2 linked regions of the Homo sapiens genome follow. The protein of the gene in region 1 purifies or fractionates together with the protein of each later gene. This does not show direct contact. Each region holds a gene or a part of one and is shown on either strand. Other genes may lie near its edges.

What was found.
Region 2: the proteins of ARR3 (region 1) and USP33 purify together in Homo sapiens (affinity purification with western blotting, with the first as the bait; one study listed by BioGRID). This does not show direct contact.

What each region holds. Positions count from the first base shown.
Region 1 is NC_000023.11:70,273,710-70,278,839, forward strand, and holds part of ARR3 (arrestin-C), read left to right. Parts: intron 1-2,372; coding exon 2,373-2,572; intron 2,573-2,723; coding exon 2,724-2,783; intron 2,784-2,959; coding exon 2,960-3,027; intron 3,028-3,684; coding exon 3,685-3,820; intron 3,821-4,006; coding exon 4,007-4,091; intron 4,092-4,356; coding exon 4,357-4,429; intron 4,430-4,794; coding exon 4,795-4,932; intron 4,933-5,130. UniProt on the Homo sapiens protein: May play a role in an as yet undefined retina-specific signal transduction. Could bind to photoactivated-phosphorylated red/green opsins.
Region 2 is NC_000001.11:77,721,853-77,726,167, reverse strand, and holds part of USP33 (ubiquitin carboxyl-terminal hydrolase 33), read left to right. Parts: intron 1-405; coding exon 406-546; intron 547-2,724; coding exon 2,725-2,837; intron 2,838-3,971; coding exon 3,972-4,144; intron 4,145-4,242; coding exon 4,243-4,315. UniProt on the Homo sapiens protein: Deubiquitinating enzyme involved in various processes such as centrosome duplication, cellular migration and beta-2 adrenergic receptor/ADRB2 recycling.

The DNA of each region.
Region 1 (5,130 bases):
CTAAATGGCATATGTAGGGTTACTAGAGCAGTCCTATTATTGACAGGTGTAATAACTGAGACCCAGAGAAATCAAGGGATTTGTGCAAGTCCTATTCAAGTCCAGGTATTCTGACCCTAAATATTATTGTTTCTCTTTTTCATGATAAAATATTTATCAAGGCATACAGAATTATATAATGAATACCCTGTACTCATCACCAAGCTTTAAAAAGAATTACAGAAACAAACTAAAGCCTCCTGTGTGTCCTTCCCTGATCCAGTTTGCCTCCCTCCCTCCCTACTTAACCCTTCTCCTCTTTCTCTCCTCCCTCCCCAGATAACGACTACCCTGAATTTGGTGTTTATTATTCTCTTGATGGCTCCATACTTCTACTCCATATTTATGTGTCTATGATCAACTTTGATATTGTCCTACATGCTTTTAAACTTTATATAACCGGTAACATACTGTACCTATCATTCTGCAGCTAGATTTTTTGTTCAGTAGCTTTTTTTTTTTTTTTTTTCTGAGACAGAGACTCACTCTGTCACCCCCACTGGAGGGCAGTGGTGCAATCTCAGCTCACTGCAACCTCCGCCTCCCGAGTTCAAGCGATTCTCCTGCCTCAGCCTCCTGAGTAGCTGGAATTACAGGTGTATGCCACCATGCCCAGCTAATTTTTGTATTTTAGTAGAGACGGGTTATCACCATGTTGGCCAGGCTGGTCTCGAACTCCTGTCCTCAAGCGATCTGTCCACCTAGGCCTCCCAAAGAGCTGGGATTACAGGCGTGAGCTACCACGCCCAGCCTTGTTCAATAGCTTTTGAGATTTAACCTTGTTGGCACAGGTCTTAGTCTGTTTGTGCTGCCACAGCAAAATACCTGAGACTAGGTAATTTATAAAGAACAGATATTTATTTTCTCACAATTCTGAAAGCTGGGAAGTCTAAGATCAAGGCTCTAGCAGGTTCTGTTGTCTGATGACGGCTGCTCTCTGCTTCCAAGATGGTGCCTTATTGCTGCATCCTCCAGAGGGGAGAAACATTGTGTCCTCACATGGTGGAAGGTGGAAGGGCAAAAGGTCTCCTTTATAAGGGTCTTAATCCCATTCATAAAGGAATTCATGAACAAAGAAGCCCCATGATCTAATCACCTCTTAATGGCCATCTTAATACCATCACAATGACCATCAAGTTTCAACTCCTGAGTTATGGAGAGGCCACATACAAACCATAGGGCATTCTTTGAAGTTCTAGCTCATTTATTTTAACCTTGGTTTAGTATTCCATTATGTGAATATACCACAAATTTTTTATCCATTCTCCTGTTGATAGATTTTTAGATTATCTCCAGTTTTATGTTCTGACAAACGTTGATGCGACGGCCATTATCATATGTATCTCTCCTGAACAAAAGCTCCTTTAAAGTCAACTTATTAGCTCATACTCTACGAGCAGATTTAATTTTACTGGATAATCCCAAATAGTCTTCCAAATTGGTTGCATTAATACTCCCACCAGCAGTATGTAAGAACTCCTTTTGCTCCACATCTTCATCAACACGTAGTGTTGTCACATTTAAAATTTTTTGACAATCTCATGGGTGTGAAATCTTATCTCGTTGTGGTTTTAATTTGCATTTATCTGATTACTCACGAGACTAAACATGTTTTCATATGTTATTGGCCATTCCTTCACACACTTTGCACACTTCTGCAAGGGCCTATTCACATTCTTTGCACAGTTTTATACTGGCATTATTGTTGATGTGTGGGAGTCCTTATATATTTTGGACTCTAAACTTCAGTGTGTTATATGTGTTGCAAAGATTTTCTCCCAGGCTTTCCATTTTTTTCTTTGTTTATAAAGACTTTGAATATAAAGAAGACTTTATAAAGACTTTTAACATAAATTTTACTGCAGTCAAATGTATTAAGAATCTTTTCATTTGTGCCCATAGCCTTCAATCTTTTTTTTTTTTTTTTTTTTTTTTTTTTGAGACAGAGTCTTGCTCTGTTGCCCAGGCTGGAGGGCAGTGACACGATCTCGGCTCACTGCAAGCTCTGCCTCCTGGGTTCACGCCATTCTCCTGCCTCAGCCTCCCAAGTAGCTGGGACTACAGGCGCCCACTACCACCAAGCCAGGCTAATACTTTGTATTTTTTTTTTAGTAGAGATGGGGTTTCACTGTGTTAGCCAGGGTGGTTTCTATCTCCTGACCTCGTGATCCACCCACCTCGGCCTCCCAAAGTGCTGGGATTACAGGCGTGAGCCACCGCGCCCAGCCAGCCTTCGATCATATTACATCACCTCTCTGTGTCTTCTTGACCCAGTTAAGATTCCCCTTCCCACTCAGGCCTGACAGACCACTCTCTTCCTCCTATGCCTGCAGTGTTTGTCATGTTGACATGTGCCTTTCGCTATGGCCGTGATGACTTGGAAGTGATTGGTCTGACGTTCCGAAAAGATCTGTATGTGCAGACCCTGCAAGTGGTCCCAGCTGAATCCAGCAGCCCTCAGGGGCCCCTCACAGTCCTACAGGAGCGACTACTGCACAAGCTAGGGGACAATGCCTACCCCTTTACCCTGCAGGTACTGACCCCAAGCCCTGGGCAGGCAAGGTCTCCAGGGAAGATTAAGAGAGGAAGCTCAAGAAGGACAACAAGGGAGAGGGTTCCCCATTTCTTTTGTATTTGTTTGTATTCTTTTCTACTTCTTTTCTGATCTCCTTTTTGTCCCCTAGATGGTGACCAACCTGCCCTGTTCTGTGACACTGCAGCCAGGTCCTGAAGATGCAGGAAAGGTGAGGACTGGGTTCTAAGAAAGAGGGATAGGTAGTGCCAGGGAAGAGGAACAGTGGGACAGTCAAGACTGGAGAAATGGACAGCTAAGGAAAGAGGTCAGGCATTTTCTTATAGGCCCATGAGGAAGGGAGGACAGCACTGGAAATGAGCTCTCTTTGCCCTTGTCCCTTTACAGCCCTGTGGGATTGACTTTGAAGTGAAGAGTTTCTGTGCTGAAAACCCAGAGGAGACAGTCTCCAAGAGGTATTCTTTGGTTGTCCCCAAAAATCCCTGCCTCCAGCCTCTGCCAGGAAACAGATCCTGCTCTCATGACAGAAATAGCCCCACTTCTAACCTCCACAGCCTCATCGCCACCAGTGACACCCGGTTCTGAGTCCCCTCTGACTTACCTTCTTTGATCTAGGGCAGGGGTCAGCAAACTTTTCTGTAATGGGCCAAAAAAAGAAATATTTGGCTTTTTGAGCCCTATAGTCTCCGTTGCAACTACTCAACTCTGCCGTTGTAGTGCAATCGCAGCCACAGATAGTATAGAAATGAATGAGTGTGGCTGTGTGTCCAATAGAACTTTACTTATGGACACTGAAATTTGAATTTCATGTAATGTCCACATGTCACAAAATAGCATTGTTCTTTGATTTATTTCAACCATTTACAAATGTAATATAACCATTCTCAGCTTGTGGGCCATAGGAAAACAGGCATCAGGCCAGATTTGGCCAGTGGGCCATAGTTTAATAACCTTTGGTCTACATGCTTACATTAAGGGACTAGAGGAGTTCTCTGAGGGAGGCCTTCCCCTGCTCCCATTCTTAAGCAACAATTGGACTATGGGGGTGGCATGGGAGAGGTCTGTGGGTCTGAAAGGAGGACGCTCTGGCTAATCTCTTGGTCTCTGCTCAGAGACTATGTGCGGCTGGTTGTCCGGAAAGTACAATTTGCACCACCGGAGGCAGGCCCTGGCCCCTCAGCCCAGACCATCCGCCGCTTCCTTCTGTCAGCTCAGCCCCTACAACTCCAGGCCTGGATGGACAGGGAGGTTTGTGACCCCCACTTTTTGCCTCCCACCCCAGAACCCCTCTGATGCCCTTTCTTCACTGATTTCCTACTTGGGCAGGCAGAGATGGGAGCCAGGGTGGCAATAGCGCTAAGGAAGCAGGGGTTCTAGGTCTCCATCTGCGTATTCGTCCTCCAGCCTTGACATGGGTCCCCGCTCCTGCTTTAGGTTCACTACCACGGAGAACCCATCTCTGTCAATGTTTCTATCAACAACTGCACCAACAAGGTCATCAAAAAAATCAAGATTTCAGGTGAGTTTCTTTTCCCATCCCTGTGCACCTGGTCCCAAAGCCACAGGTCTTTTCCCAAAATTCTATCTCACTTACCTGTCTGCATTCATCTAGGCTTTCCCTCTAACATGGGCTTGTCAAAATGCATATCTTGTTTTGTCAATGAGCATGTCTCACTGCATCATGTATAGTGTGCCTATGTATAAGGTCACATCTAAGGACACTGAGCTGGGGTCTCAAGGATGACTGACTGATTATAATCATGTGCTTTTCCTGGCTTGTTCAGTTGACCAGATCACAGATGTTGTCCTGTATTCACTAGACAAGTACACCAAGACTGTGTTCATTCAGGAATTCACGTGAGCTGGTGCTGGGGCTAGGACCAGAGAGCCAAGGGGTGGGGTGGTGGGAAGAGGTCCAGGAGGCAGTTGAGGGGGTAGAGTGGGGGAGAAGAGTGGTGGAAGATTCCAGGGAGGGATTCCCAGGAGAACTAGATGGAGGGGATGCAACTTACCCCCAGGAGTCCCATCACGATGCTGAGCGAGGGCAGGGGCATAAGGATTTCCCACCAGAACTAATTTCTCCCAGTCTTCAGTTAAACATGTTACCTCTCTTGGATACTCCAGTAGGTTCTTGTATAATCTTGTACAAGATACTCTTGGGAGTAAAAGTATGCTTAGTCAGCAAGCCCAGCCTAAATTCTTCTCTTGTTCTTCTTTTGTAGGGAGACTGTAGCTGCTAATTCCAGCTTCTCCCAGAGCTTTGCAGTAACCCCAATCCTGGCTGCCAGCTGCCAGAAACGGGGCCTGGCACTGGATGGCAAACTTAAGCATGAAGATACCAACCTGGCCTCTAGCACAATGTAAGCTCAAATATAACTCTCAGCCTCCATTTCCTACCCCTCAACCATTCCACATGCTACATTTACAGCTCTGAGGTTTCATGTTCAGTAAAGCCTACCTGTTTTTTAAAGTGTCTCTAGGGCAGTGTTCAGAGACTCCTCCAGGCCTAAAGGCCTGCAGCAAGCTCAATAATGCCTGTGGGACCAACGGCAGGCTTA
Region 2 (4,315 bases), on another chromosome or scaffold:
GACCAGCCTGGCCAAAATGGTGAAACCCCATCTCTACTAAAAATACAAAAATGAGGTGGGCCTGGTGGCACATGCCTGTAATCTCAGCTACTTGGGAGGCTGAGGCAGAAGAATCGCTTGAATCCAGGATGCGGAGGTTGCAGTGAGCTGAGATCGCACCTCTGCACTGCAGCCTGGGGGACAGAGGGAGACTCTGTCTCAAAAAAACAAGTAAACAAAAATTAGTTGGATTTCTGGGTAGAAGATTACTGTTATTTTGCTTAGTAAGCACTTTGTTAAGTATTTAACTTGACATTTGTTAATATGATTGTGTTCAAAATATCAAATTAAGAAACCTTTAACATTATTGGACAGTTAGAATAATTTTACTATTTAAGGTAATAATGCAAATTTTAAATCTTACAGAATATATCACTGATGTCCATTCGAATGACCTGTCTACACCACAGATCCTTCCATCAAATGAAGGTGTTAATCCACGTTTATCGGCAAGCCCTCCTAAATCAGGCAATTTGTGGCCAGGATTGGCACCACCACACAAAAAAGGTAAAACGTTTCTCTTATTCAGTCTCTTTTGCTTTGGGTCTTAGTTTAAAATGATGGTTTTGGTACTTGATAATTTAAAGTGTTAATTATGAAATATGATTTGATCTTTTAAAATTGATAGCATAATTTTACATAGACATGATTAAAAATTTTGTGTGTTGGTACTCTGCTTTTAAAATTTTACATACAGTTGAATTCACTTTTTCTTGTATAGAGCTTTATGAATTTTAACACTTGCAGCATAGATTCTTGTTACCACCACCACAAACAGAATACAGAACAGCTCTAACACCCCAAAGAATTCCTGCATAGTACTACTTTGTAATCAGATCATTTCTCTATTCCTATGTTCTGGCACCCTTGATCCTCTTTTCTTATTGTTTTGCCTTTTCCTAGAATGTCATATAAATGAAATCATATAGTATGTAGTCTTTTGATTTTTTTAAATCTTTTCATATGTAGTCTTTTGAAACAGGTTTGCCTCTCAGGATAATGCATTTGAAATTCAGATATGTTACTGCGTGTCTGAATAGTTTGTTCCTTTTACTACCAAGTAATGTTTCTTTTTTTTTGTTTTGTTTTGAGATGGAGTCTCACTGTCGCCCAGGCTGGAGTACAGTGGTGCAATCTTGGCCCACTGCAACCTCTGCCTGCCAGGTTCAAGCAGTTCTCCTGCCTCAGCCTCCCGAGTAGCTGGGACTACAGGTGCACGCCACCATGCCTGGCTAATTTTTTGTATTTTTAGTAGAGATGGGCCATGCTGGTCTCGAACTCCTGACCTTGTGATCTCCCCACCTCTGCCTCCCAAAGTGTTAGAATTACAGGCATGAGCCACCATGCCCGGCCTAATATCTCATTTTTTATGGGTATACCACTGTTTATTTACCTACTGGTGGACTTTTGAATTGTTTCCAATTTTTGGCAATTATGAATAATGTTGCTCTAAAATTTATGTATAGGTTTTTGTAAGAACATTTTTTCATTTGTCTAGGACAAATACCTAGAAGTGGGGTTACTGGGTTTTATGTTTGTTTAATGCTTATAGTTGTATTAAACTGCCAGACTTTTTACCAGAGTGTCTACCATTTAGTATTCCTTCCAGGTATATATGGGAGTTCCAGTATTATGTTTTCTTAGAAGAAAACATAGGAGAAAGTCTTCATGGCCTTGGGTTAGACAAAGAGTTCTTAAAGACATTAAAAGCATGATCCATTAAAGAAAAAAATTAAAGATTTTTGTTGACAAAGGACATTCAGAGAATGGAAAGATAAGGTTGGATGTATTTATAAATCATATAGCTAGCAAAGGACATGTATCCAGAAATATATAAAGAACTCTTAAAAACTTTAAATAATAGAATCTTTTCTTCAAATAAAGCCTTACCTGGAGACAAAAACAAATAAGTGAAAACAGAATTGCTCTCAAGTCAGGATAGGGAGACCGAACCCCTTCTATTTCATCTTTAGCTTGATGATGACTTTCATCATCTTTCCCTCACTTTCTAACCTCTTCCCCTCTTCTTTTGACTTGTAAAACATTTAAGTAAACATCCCAGTGATGAAGCATTTGTGGTTTTGTGCTAATTTAGAATTTTGTTCATTTTCTCATATGTACATTTATGGTGGCCAAGGATCATTTATACTTTAAAAAAAAAAACAGGCTGGGTGCGGTGGCTCACGCCTGTAATCTCAGTACTTTGGGAGGCTGAAGTGGGTGGATCATGAGGTCAGGAGATCGAGACTATCCTGGCTAACATGGTGAAACCCTGTCTCTACTAAAAATACAAAAAAATAGCTGGGCGTGGTGGTGGGCGCCTGTAGTCCCAGCTACTTGGGAGGCTAAGGTAGGAGAATGGCATGAACCCGGGAGGCAGAACTTGGCAGTGAGCCGAGATCGCACCACTGCACTCCAGTGTGGGCAACAGTGCGAGACTCCACCTCAAAACAAAAAAACAAAAAAAAACAACAAATATCTTAAGCCTTGTCTGCTTAGTTTCTTTTATTTTTTTAATACTTATGCTCTTTTGAAGAGTATTTTGAAAATTTTCAACACAGTAATTTTTACAGTTTAAGGATTCTAGAGATCATATACAAGTAAGATTGACAAGACAAAAAAAGATTCCAGAGAAAAATGTTAAAGGAGCTGCTTTGATTTTTTTTTAATGTTTTTCAATCCTAGCTCAGTCTGCATCTCCAAAGAGAAAAAAACAGCACAAGAAATACAGAAGTGTTATTTCAGACATATTTGATGGAACAATCATTAGTTCAGTGCAGTGTCTGACTTGTGACAGGGTGAGTATGAGGGTATTAGAATACACAGAAAATTCGTGTCAAATGATTTTTAAAAATGTGACAAGATGATGTGAAAAGTTTAATTCCTTCTCTTTGCTATTGATGAGCATACATGCATTTATTGTGTTTACATCAACACAAATTTGATTCTAGGTGTAGAATTTTTTTTGGAAGTAGCAGCATCCTGTTTAAAGGATGGTGACCCATCATTGGACAGGCACATATTATCCTTCGTCATCTATTTTGGTTACATATAAAGGTGAGAAGTTGCTCAGCAACAAGAATTGGTAACACCTGCATATTCTCCCAGGCTGATGAAATTTGTATACTGGGAATCTGTTGATATTCACAGGTACAAAGCTGTGAATGTATCTCTTACATTTGGTCATATATGGTTTGTAAATATTTTTCCATGTTTAGGATGGGACTCAGATACTAAAGGTAGTATCAAATTCATAGACAATAACAAAGCATACATTAAAATCATCATGAATTTTTTAATAACACTTCTTCAAAGTTTCTTTGAGCTTTTCTTAAGTACAGTTTTACTTTAGTGCAATGATGAATATGAAATAACATCTCAAAAACAAAAAGAAGATTTCAATTATTGTGTTAGAATCTCAAGTCAAATCTAAGAACTTTCAATCGGGTCGTTTTAATGTAGGTTATTTTGGTACTAAATATTTAAGTGGAATTATCAGGCATGTTTTTAGCTATTTAAAATTAGATGCCAGATTTTGTCTCACCCTTTTAAAAAAATATTTTAAAACTACCATCAAAGGTCAATTTTCAAAAATAAATACAATAGTGCTTAAGAGTTTGGACCTCAAGATGCAGTGGCTGGATTTGGGGTGTTTAATGCTGCAGTGTCTGTGATTGTAATGGGGATGCTAATACTACTGCACAGGACTTACGTGAAGATACCTGGTACAGAGCAAGTGTGTTTTGTTTTTTGTTTTTGTTTTTTTTTTTGCTATTATGACTATGAAAGCAGTTCAATTTGCGTGTTTTTTTTTGTTTTTTGTTTTTTTTGCTTATTTAAACATGCTTTGATCTTTAGAGTCTAAAATCTAACCTTGGAAATGTTTTACTGCATTATGTTCATCCCATTTTTAAAACACAAAACAATTTTAGGTGTCTGTAACCCTCGAGACCTTTCAAGATCTGTCCTTGCCAATTCCTGGCAAGGAAGACCTTGCTAAGCTGCATTCATCAAGTCATCCAACTTCTATAGTCAAAGCAGGATCATGTGGCGAAGCATATGCTCCACAAGGGTGGATAGCTTTTTTCATGGAATATGTGAAGAGGTATGTATTTATTTTCTTTGTATTACATGATTGTTAAACCTGCTGTTTCTGCTGTACTGGCAGAACACTTCCTTTTTTTTCTATCAATGATGTTTCAGGTTTGTTGTCTCATGTGTCCCTAGCTGGTTTTGGGGTCCAGTAGTAACCTTGCAAGATTGTCTTGCTGCCTTC